2 separate regions of the Homo sapiens genome follow, and region 1 is linked to region 2. Evidence: fine-mapped expression QTL. A gene starts in region 2. The other region holds a variant in brackets. All regions are shown on one strand. Distances are from middle to middle.

Region 1 (5,366 bases), 170 kb before region 2:
GAGTCTGGTCTATTCTAGAATCCCCTCATTTGACATTCACTGTGCTGGGTGCTGGGGACACAGAGGTGACAGAACACAGTTCCTGCCTTCAGGAGTGCTCAGTCCACTGGTGGGGACAGGCAAGTAAGCAGACAATAGCAATTCAGTGTTTTGGGGTGAGGGAGCACAGAAAAACACCATACCATGAGAGGCAGAGTGTGGAAGTCAGAGAAACCCTCCTGGAGGAGGAGACACCATGCTGGGATGAGTTGGCCAAGAATCTAAGCTCCATGAGGGCAGAGATTGTGTATGCTTGTTCACCACTGTATCCCTGATGCCTGTAGCAGGGTCTGGCACAGAGCAGATGCTTCTAAATATTTGTCAATTGAATAAATGGGGAAAAGAGTATATCTGGCAGAGGGAATAGCACATGCAAAGGCCCAGAGAGGAGACAGCTAAGCTTCAAATTTTCAGTGTAGCCAGCATAAGCAACAAGTGGGAAGAACTGAGGCCCAGGGAGAAGGAAGAGGCCAGATTGCAGAGCCTCTTTGCATAGCCGGGCTTTATTGTGAGGCTAACAGGGAACTACTGGGGTTATTGAAGCAGTTTTCCATGCATGCTAGAGAAAAATGCTCCAGCTGCTGTGTGAAATTAGAGAAGGCAAAGCCAGAGGAAGGGAGACCAATGTGGCTACTGCAAGAGATTATACGAGACTGATGGGAACCTCCCCAGAAAACCTCCTTTTCCACTCTAAACCTTCCCTCCCGCCCACCAATCTGTGTCCCTTGAAGTCTCTCTGCTAGGGTGCAGCAGCCTCTCTGTTTCCCCTAGGTGGCTACTGTACCCCAAACCATTATTCGAAGACACTCCCTACATCCTGGAACCTGGAGAGTACCCCACCTCAGAGGCCTGGGGCACATCGGACCCCAGCGTGGGCTCCCTGAAGCCCATGAGATTGGTAAAGAACAGGGCACACCCACAGGCCAGGAGGTCTAGGCTCTGCCCCTGGTCCCAAGTAGCTGGTCCTGCAGTCTGTGGGAAGGGATGGGGGATGAAGTGTAAAACAGCACCCCTTGGAGACTGCTTCCTGGGAGCTTCTATTGGGAATGGGAGTGGGAGGAGAGGTAGGGATTAACCTAAGAGGTAGGGGAAAAGGGAAGACATGGGGTTGGGGTTCTCAGGATCAGGAAAATCCTAGATCCGCAGCCCCATCTGTCTTTCCCATCTCTGGGCTGGTGTCTCAGCTCTGTCTCCTCTGCAGGGCTGCCCAAGTGTGGAGAAGCCAGGGGAGCCCAGGGTAAGAGTCTGGGCTTAAGAGCCAAAGAGGGCCTTTGGTGGCGGGGTGCAGGTGTTTGGTTATCGTGGTCTGGACAGGAAATCCAGAGAGGAGGGCACTGGGGGCCAGAAGCACGGTCTGGGGGGATGGGACCTGATGGGCTCACTGGGAACTGGCTTTTGATGTGTAAGAAGGTCAGAGGTCAGAGTAGAGATAGGAATTGGGTAAGGGGATGGAGTTCAGCAAGGAGGTGGGAGGGCTGGGGGGTGCCACATTGGCCTGATGCTGGGCAGAGCCATTCCTGAGCTGGCTGGGTGTGTTTGGGTCCAGATGACTCCTGACAGCCCCTTTCCCCCAGGCTGTGGTGTATGAGGCCCCAGGCTTTCAGGGCCGCAGCTGGGAAGTGAGCCGAGACATCTACAACCTTCAGCAGCCAGAGGACAGCCAGAGCCCCCACCTGGCCTCTGTGGGGTCCCTGAGAGTTCTCGGAGGCTGGTGAGAACTCAGGACCCTTCCTTCTATTTCATCACCTCTGGCCTTTACCCTTGGGAGTGGGGAGTGACCTGGGCTGCGTAGGGGTGGGGACAGCTGTCTCATTCATCCATGGGCCTCCTATGACTGAACCTGCCTGTCTGTCCTCCTGCTTTTCCCAGCTGGGTGGGCTACGAGAAGGAGGGCTTCCGGGGCCACCAGTATCTGCTGGAGGAGGGGGAATACCCAGACTGGTCACACTGGGGAGGCTATGACGAGTTGCTGACCTCCCTCCGGGTCATCCGGACGGTAAGCAAAGGCAATTGGCCCATCCCTCTGCCTCTGGCCACAGCCAGACCTCCCCCAGTACAGTTTGTGGAGGGAAGAATTTGTACCCCCTCTCCGTGTTCTCCCTGTAAGTGTTCCCAGAGGTCTAGCCTCTCTTCCCCTGCTGCTCTTCTCCAGGTCGTACTGACAGCCTCACCCCTAATTCCCCGGGTGGGCTGTGACCCTGGGGTCTGGGCACTCCCAGGGGTTTCGGTTTGTGGGCGGGAGAGACCTGACTGTCCCTGGGGACCCAGGACTTCGGGGACCCGGCCGTCGTGCTATTTGAGGCCATGGACTTCGAGGGGCACGGCGTGGAGGTGAGCAAGGCATTGCCGGATGTGGAGCTGGTGCAACACGGCCCCA[G/A]CACACAGGCCATCCACGTGCTCAGCGGCGTGTAAGTGACCCGGGCTCCGGGAGCGGGGCGGGCCCGGGCGAGCCGGGGGCGGTTCCAGGAGAGGTGCAGGCTCCGTCCCAGCTGACTCGCGCCCCGCCCTTCCTGCAGGTGGGTGGCCTACCAGGAGGTGGGCTTCTCCGGGGAACAGTACGTGCTGGAGAAGGGCGTGTATCGTAACTGCGAGGACTGGGGCGCTGGCAACAGCACCCTCGCCTCGCTGCAGCCGGTCCTACAGGTGCGTGCCGGCCGCGGGGGGCGGGGCCTCCCCGGTGGCGGGACCTGGAGTTCGGGTGCGCCCCGCCCCCACGCAGAGGTAGCGGGCTGGAGGACCTGCCTGGGCGCTTGGGGCGGGGCCTTAGAAGGGGGCGGGGCCGAGGGCGCGGCCGCGGGGTGGACGGTACTGAAACCTAGAGAAGACAAGGCTAGGGGCCGGCACCCTCCCTAATTCTCGATTCGGTCCCTACCTTCAGGTCGGGGAGCACGATCTGCACTTCGTCTCAAAGGTAAGGCAGGGACTCCGCAGGGAGCCGCTGGGCTCACGTCTCTCCCCTCATTTCGGACCTTTCCCCTCCCCGCTGTTCTCGGCCCCACTCCATCGTCCTCCTTCCCCTCATCTCCCCTCTCTGCCTCCAGATTCAGCTTTTCTCCCGCCCCGACTTTCTGGGCGACCACTTCTCTTTCGAAGATGACCAGGCCGCTCTGCCCGCCTCCTTCCGACCTCAGTCCTGCCGGGTCCACGGCGGCAGGTGAGAACGTGGAGGGGCGGAGGGCTGGGGGCGCTGGGGCAGAGGCGGGGCTGCAGGAGGAGAGTCTTTCAAATGATTTCCTTCCTTTGGCTACCTTGCGATGAACTGTTCTGTCTTGCGCAATTTTAAAACAAAATAAGGTTTTAATGGAAAATGTAAAACTGTAGATTGTATAATATAAAGATAAATCTTGTTTCCTCTATCCGTGTGCTCTTTTAAATTTTCGGTGGAGTATTTTAAATCCCTGACCCAACGTAAAATTTCATGGGTACACACTTCAACGTGTGTCTCTAATATGAAAGAACATTTTCCCCACGTAGCTACAAGTCATTATCACATCTAATAAAATTAATAACAATTTATTCATATTACCCAATACCCAGTCCGTGTTCAGATTTCTCCCATTGTCTCAAAAATGCCTTTGTGAAATTAACTTGTTTTTCTCAGCATCCAAATAAGGTCCTTGGGCCAGGTTTCCTCATGTTGGCCAGGCTGATCTCAAACTCCTGGGCTCAAGCTATCCGCCACCTCGGCCTTCCAAAGTGCTGGGATTACAGGCATGAGCCACCGTGCCTGGCCGACCCCAGTAGTTTTTTTTGTATTGTTTTGTTTTGTTTTGAGACAGAGTTTTGCTCTGTTGCCCAGGCTGGAGTGCAGTGGCGCGATCTCAGCTCACCGCAACCTCCGCCTCCCAGGTTCAAGCGATTCTCCTGCCTCAGCCTTCCCAAGTAGCTGGGATTATAGGCATGGGCCACCAAGCCCGGCTAATTTTGTATTTTTAGTAGAGATGGGGTTTCTCCATGTGGATTAGGCTGGTGTTGAATTCCCAACATCAGGTGATCCGCCCACCTCGGCCTCCCAAAGTGCTGGGATTACAGGCGTGAGCCACTGCGCCCGGCGACCCCAGTAGTTTTGATAACTTTCTTGATATAATAAGATGCTCCAGGATCATTTTGTACATTTTTTTTTTTTTTTGCTCCAAATCTAGAATTGGCTATTTGCCAAGGAACCCTGGTTCTTTTTAGTGGCAAATGGTAGAGACCAAAATCTGCATGCTAGGTGTTTCAAAGTTATAATGCCCTTATTACAACTAATAGTAAAAACCACTGAATGCTGTTGGGAGTTTCCTGTTTTTTGTTTGTTTGTTTGTTTGTTTTGTTTGTTTGTTTTTTTGAGATGGAGTCTCGCTCTGTCGCCCAGACTGGAGTGCAGTGGCACTGTCTCAGCTCACTGCAGCCTCTGCCTCCCGGTTCAAGCAATTCTCCTGCTTCAGCCGCCTGAGTAGCTGGGATTACAGGCACCCGCCACCACGCCCAGCTAATTTTTGTATTTTTAGTAGAGATGGGGTTTCATGATGTTGGTCAGGCTGGTCTCAAACTCTTGACCTCATGATCCGCCCCCCTCGGCCTCCCAAAGTGCTGGGATTACAGGCATGAGCCACCGTGCCTGGCTTCTTGTGGTTCTTTTTGTCCTCAAGATATTCACCTATAACCTATTTGTTATATATTCGTTCAAATTACCGTGTCTTAAACACATTTGAAATAATACTTTTGTGTGTGTGGTTATGTCACCAACCTAATATACAATTAGGTTCATTAATTTAATTTATTTTCAGTTTTAAGGAATATTTTTCATTTTTATCTATTTCTGGATTTGTTTTTGTTTTTGTTTGAGACAGGGTCTCACTTTCTTATTCAGGCTGGAGTGCAGTGGTGTGAACACAGCTCAGTGCAGCCTTGACCTCCTGGGCTCAAGGGATTCTCCTACTTCAGCCTCCTGAGACCTGGGACCATAGGTGCACGCCACCGCGCCCGGCTAATTTTTTAACTTTTTTGTAGAGATGGGGGTCTCACTTTGTTACTTAGGCTGGTTTCAAACTTCTGGGCTCAAGCAATCCTCCCTTCTTGGTCTCCCAAAGTGTTGGGATTACAGGTGTGAGCCACTGCACCTGGCCCTAGTTCTGTTTTCCTATGAATAATTACCATGAAGCTGGGCACAGTGGCTCATGCCTGTAATCCCAGCACTTTGGGAGGCTGAGGCAGGAGTCCAGGAGTTCAAGAATCACCTGGGCAACATAAGGAGACCCTGTCTTGACAAAAAAATTTTTAATTAGGTGGATGTGGTGTCATGCACCTATAGTACTACCTACTCAGGAGGCTGAGATGGGAGGATT
Region 2 (5,366 bases):
TGTATACATTTCAAAGGTAATAGGTTAAGTGAAAGAAGGATGTGCCCTTTCCCCAGTGTGTCTCTATCATGTTCCCCAGTGGGGGCCACTACTAAATTTGGGATATTCTTCTATTTTCTATATCTGCAGATAGTCTACATACTATTCTGCAAATTGTACTTTTTCTTTTTTATTTTTATTGGAGACAGGGTCTGGCTCTGTCACCCATGCTGGAGTGCAATGGTGCAACCTCAGCTCATTGCAGCCTCCACCTCCTGGGCTCAAGTGATCCTCCCACCTCAGCCTCCTGAGTAGCTGGGACTACAGGCATGCACCACCATGCCTGGCTAAATTTTTTTTTTTTTTTTTGGTAGAGATGAGGTTTCACCACGTTGCCCAGGCTGGTCTTGAACTCCTGGGCTCAAGCCATCTGCCTGCCTCAGCCTCCCAAAGTGCTGCCCAGCCATACTTTTTCATTTAAGAGATAATCGATAGCAAATGAAATAATACAAGTTAAGTGCTTAGAACAATGACTACTATTTTTAACGTATCACGGGCAGCTTCCTTAATTGGTATATGCAGATATGCTTTTATTATTGTTTCAAGCTGAGGGCAGGGAAGTCCCTGAAGAAACTTTGTCTTGAAAAAATGGGTTAAATTGGCCGGGCGCAGTGGCTCACACCTGTAATCCCAACACTTTGGGACGCCAAGGCGGGGGGATCATGAGGTCAGGAGTTCAAGACCAGCCTGACCAATATGGTGAAACCCCGTCTCTACTACAAATACAAAAATTAGCTGGGCGCGGTGGCAGGTGCCTGTAATTTCAGCTACTCAGGAGGCTGAGGCTGGAGAATCGCTTGAACCTGGGTGGCAGTGAGACGAGATCATGCCACTGCACTCAAGCCTGGGTGACAGAGTGAGACTTCTGTCTTAAAAAAAAAAAAAAAAAGGGTTATATGTGCCCTCCCTTGAGGTAGGGGCGGTTGATTTCACAGAAATCAAATGGAAAAGGCATACTGTTGTGGGAGCTAATAACACATCCTTCCTTCGATAATGCTGATTGGTGGCATCCAATCATCTAAGGTAGCGATGGGGCCTGGACCAGGGCTGAGGGAGGCCCGCCCAGTACCTGGTCCAGGCCTGGGACTCCTGAGCACTGCCAGCCAAGGCCTCTCCTGCCTAACCGGACCCGCCTCCTCGGAGAGTGGGGGAGGTGCCGCTCAAGCCTGATGCTGATCTCTTTTGACAGCTGCTTCTAAGGCTGGCAGGATGGTAGGCAGTGGGGGAAGGGACCAGATTTAAAGGTCCAGTTGCTCCGCCCCCTGCCAGACCTGGGCAGGCAGGCGCGGGTGAGCATCCTCTGAGAGCTTGGGTCTTGCGTATGTGGAAGGTCAGAGACCCCTCTACCCTAGTTTCCACTTCTTGGTGTCATGAAGACCACTGGTCTTCACGTCCGCTCCCACCCTACAGGCCGCCAGGGAGACCAGTGCCGCCCACCATGCGATTTCGACGCTTGACCCCTGGTTACTTCCGGGTGTTACAGGTAAGTACCCCTGATCAACGGTTTCTGGCACGACTGACCCCTTCCTCCCCCTACCATAGCTGGGTTGACACCCCCAACAGCCAGGCTGTCACGTTCCCTGCCGCCTGAGCAGGCAGGCCCAGATGGGCAGTGAGGCGAAAGGGATTGGGGTGGAATCTCCCTGGGGCAGGACCGGCGTCCATGTCTCCTTCCCCTAGCTACATCTACTCAGCCCTTTCCCACTCCCCACCTTCCTGGCAGTCTCAACTGACCCCTGAGGCACACCCTCTGTGCACCTCCAGATGCAGGTAGCTGGTGAGCTGAAGGCAGAGCCCCGGAGTCTGCTGGCAGGAGTTGTGGCTACAGTGCTAGCTGTCCTCGGCCTGGGTGGCTCCTGCTATGCCGTCTGGAAGATGGTGGGGCAGCGGCGGGTGCCACGGGCCCCGTAACGAAGAAGAGAGACTCTCACTTGGATGCTGGGGGTAGGTGACTCGGGAGGGGGGTGCAATCTCAGAAGCCTTCTTTTCTGGGGATCAGTCTCTGTCAGAAGCAGGACAGAGTAATCTGATCCCACTCCCGCCACCCCACACTGCATCAGGCCTCCATCTGGGTGCTCCAGTTCAGATGCTAGGACCTCAGAGGGAAGGCAGAGATAGACCAAGTGGGGAGTAGACACCCTAGGCCTGGTGTACAGAAAGTAGTAGAGAAGCCCTTCCAGGGCAGGAGTTTGAGACAGCGGCCTGGAAGTTAGAGTTGGAGGCAAGTTCTCTTTGTCCAGTTCCTTTATTTGGGGCAGGGCACCAAGAAGAGGCCCTCCGCTCCCCAAACCCAGAGGCAAAAGGGGTTGGCACGCTCCCTCCCAGCCTAGTCCTTGCGTCACTGTCCATGGGCAATTCCTCTGCCCTGCATCTTCAGGCCATGTCAGGTAGAGGTATCCATCTCAGGGACCTCAGTGGACACTTCCGTGGGCACTGCCAGCCGCCTGGGGGGCACATAGGATCCCATACCCGCTGCCCTCTCCGCCTCTTCCTGACTGTAGGGCTCGACGCTCAGCTGCTTCAGCCTGGGAGAAAGAAAAACAGGAGTTGGGAGCTGACCAGGTGAGAGCCCTATCTGCTGAGCACCCATCCATCAATCCTCTCCTTACTCCTTCATACCTTTTCTTGTGGTCTTTGGATCGGAAGTGGGTCTTCAGGTTGGTGGAATCGATGAAGTACCTCCTGTAGGAATGGAAGTGAGAAGGAGAGTGAGGAGGTGATAGTCTCCCAAGTGCACCTATCTCCCTAGCCCTAGCTTGTCCCTGACGCCAGGATCCGGGTCTGAGAAACGGGAGGCGGGCGGACCCACGGGTCCCAAGAGAGAAGACTCTGCGCTGCCTGGGGCTTCAACTTCACATCTCCCGGCCGGTACCGCGGACCCTCCTCCGCCCCAGGCCGGGCTCGTCCGGGACTCACGCGCAGGCCAGACAGCGGTGCAGACCGCCCCCTGGCAGGTCGGGGTCGAACTCGGCGTTTGGGTCGGGCTGGGGTCGTGCGGATCCCTGAGGCCGCAGCTCGCGGTGAATCTCATCCAAGTCCGGCCGCCGCCGCTTCGCCTTCATCTGCCGGGCTAGAGAGTGCGCTCGGTGCGCGCCTGTCCGGCGGGAGCGACCCATGGCCAGAAACAGCCCGGCCGGCCAAGGGGCCAGGAGCAGGGCAGGGAGCACACGTGTGAGCACTTCCGGGCCGATCAGCTACGTCAGGCCACGCCGGGGGGCTAGGCAGGCTCGGCCGGACCGCCTCTGATGACGTCACTCTCGGCCAGCGGCTCGAGCGCCGCCAGGCGGCCGTCGACGTCAGTGACCGAGCTCAGGACGGGCTCCCAGAAGTGTGCCCACTGAAGGGCATGGCCCCGCGGGCCCTCGCTGGGGAGGCGCGGGGTGGTGCGTGCGCCTGGGGGTTTCGGGGCCGTCTTGCTGCCCTGCTCTTCCTGGCCTGGTCCAACCAGTATCAGTGCCAACCTGTACTCCTGTCATCCCTTCCTGTTTCCCAGACCTTGGACTCCGCGGTGGGGGTGGGATGCTTTATCTCTGGAAAGCACTGATAAATGTCTGTGTCATGAATAAATTAGTAAATGACTGAGAGTGAATAAGTTTGGAATCCCAGCCCCACCAGGGCTTCCCGAGATAATCTCCAGTCCCTGAAAAAGCCCTCACTTCTCCGGGCTCCCGTTATTCCCTTGAGTCTCCATCCTCTCTCTGACCCCAACCAAATCCGTGAAGGGTGTTCCTCCCCAGAGAGTGCAGTCCTCAGGCATCCAGACTCCAGAGGGATCAGTTCCTCTCACAAGTACTCATAGAAGGACCTCTCCATCTTTGCCTCCTTTCTCTAAGCCCTGGGCTCCCAGAGGTGGGCTGGCAGCAAAGGCCTAGGTGTTGCATGCTCAGAGTGGCTAGAGGGCCTTTCCCCATTCACAGGAGCCTGGTGCCTCCCAGGCTGGCCAGAGCCAACTCAGCTGGAAGGGGCCAGAGGAGCTTAGCAATAATTCAGGGGCTCCAGCTCTTTGGAGTCTGTTGCCAGGAAACAAGGAGACAGGCACGTGTATCCCTGGGGAGAGGAATCAGTTTCCAGCCCAGACAAAGGAGTGAAATGTAAGCCCAAGGTGCCCACTGGGGGCCTGCGGACCTTCCTGCTCCAGTTCATTGAGGCTAAGTAGGGACACAGGGTGGAGCCCTGCTGAGGACACAACTAGTATGACTACAGTCACAGGGGCTCCAGTGTGGGTCCCAGACCTCAGGATTTTGTGAATGGAAGAAGATTTTCCTGGAGGCATGCTAAGAGATGAACAACTCAAGTACTCCTAGGCCCAGGAAGAAAGCCTCTCTAGAGACAAATGACTTCATTATTCTTGGCCAATATGGGTCAAGACAAGGGGCTAAGGTGGCAGAAGCTTGTTCCATCCCCCACTCCCCGACTCCTTTGGATCAGGTTCACCTCCTGGGCACTGTGCCAGCTGGGGAGGCTGGTGCATCTTTAATGAAGTCACTGGATCCCTCGGACAGGCTCTTGGCCTCACCAAGTTCCTAGAGCCAGACTCACTGGTATCCACTGAGCCACCACCTTCCTGTGCTTGCGTGCCAGGCCCCTTCCCCCTGCAGCCATGAACCAGGCCTTCTGGAAAACCTACAAGTCCAAAGTGCTACAGACCCTGAGTGGGGAATCTGAAGAAGACCTGGCAGAGGAGGTGGGTGCCATCCATGCATGGTGGGTGGAGCATGTGCAGAGGGGCAGCAGGAATGAGCAGTATGAAGTGGGGCACAGGATAGGCTTGGAGGTGGGGGGGCCACATTTGTGCAGATGCCACATTCAGGGATGGTAAAAACCATGGTGCAGCATCAGAAAGCCAGGACATTCAAGAAAACTGAGGAAGAAAAGACTTAGGGACCATGGGAGGAGTGGCCACTGTCTCCAAAGATCTCGAGGCTGCCACATGGAAGAGATTCTTCTAGGACCAGTGGGCAGTAGGCACACGGGCACACTTAGCTGGACACAACTTTCTAATGGGAGCAGAAGTAGGAGTGATGTAGTGAGCCCCATGTTACTAGAGGTAGGGGGAGTGGCGCCTGTACTAGAAAGGTCACTGCAGCAGCATCAGATCAAAGCCATACTTAGACCATGCTTTGTTCTGACATTACAAAAAACAAGCAAACAAACAACAACAACAAAAAACAGGCTGGGCCGGGCACGGTGGCTCATGCCTGTAATCCTAGCACTTTGGGAGGCCGAGGTGGGTGGATTGCCTGAGCTCAGGAGTTCAAGACCAGCCTGGGCAACACGGTGAAACCCAGTCTCTATTAAAATACAAAAAAAAGTAGCCAGGCATGGCG

What was found. PIP is the estimated chance that this variant, and not a neighbour inherited with it, causes the effect.
Region 1: its variant is the best candidate, but not a certain one, in a credible set for the expression of ZNF593 in whole blood (INTERVAL, PIP 0.77).

What each region holds. Positions count from the first base shown.
Region 1 is chr1:26,333,922-26,339,287 of GRCh38, reverse strand. CRYBG2 (crystallin beta-gamma domain containing 2) reads left to right here. Exons shown (of 20, transcript NM_001039775.4): 7 at 811-937; 8 at 1,241-1,276; 9 at 1,614-1,750; 10 at 1,909-2,035; 11 at 2,308-2,447; 12 at 2,556-2,682; 13 at 2,918-2,950; 14 at 3,081-3,193. Among named protein-coding and RNA genes, the nearest start is that of CRYBG2, 18 kb to the left of the region's middle. RefSeq lists an enhancer at 2,321-2,380 and a silencer at 2,521-2,900. The variant G/A (reference allele first, on the strand shown) is at 2,417.
Region 2 is chr1:26,167,773-26,173,138 of GRCh38, reverse strand. It overlaps ZNF593 (zinc finger protein 593), which reads right to left and starts at 3,231. Exons shown (of 3, transcript NM_015871.5): 1 at 2,956-3,231; 2 at 2,659-2,721; 3 at 2,266-2,564. The coding sequence starts at 3,155. The coding sequence ends at 2,423. C1orf232 (chromosome 1 open reading frame 230) reads left to right here and starts at 4,176. Exons shown (of 4, transcript NM_001364669.2): 1 at 4,176-4,723. The coding sequence starts at 4,640. ZNF593OS (ZNF593 opposite strand) reads left to right here and starts at 1,307. Exons shown (of 4, transcript NM_001395468.1): 1 at 1,307-1,369; 2 at 1,450-1,522; 3 at 1,804-1,983; 4 at 2,541-3,618. The coding sequence starts at 1,478. The coding sequence ends at 1,950. RefSeq lists an enhancer at 3,362-3,461 and a silencer at 4,695-4,850.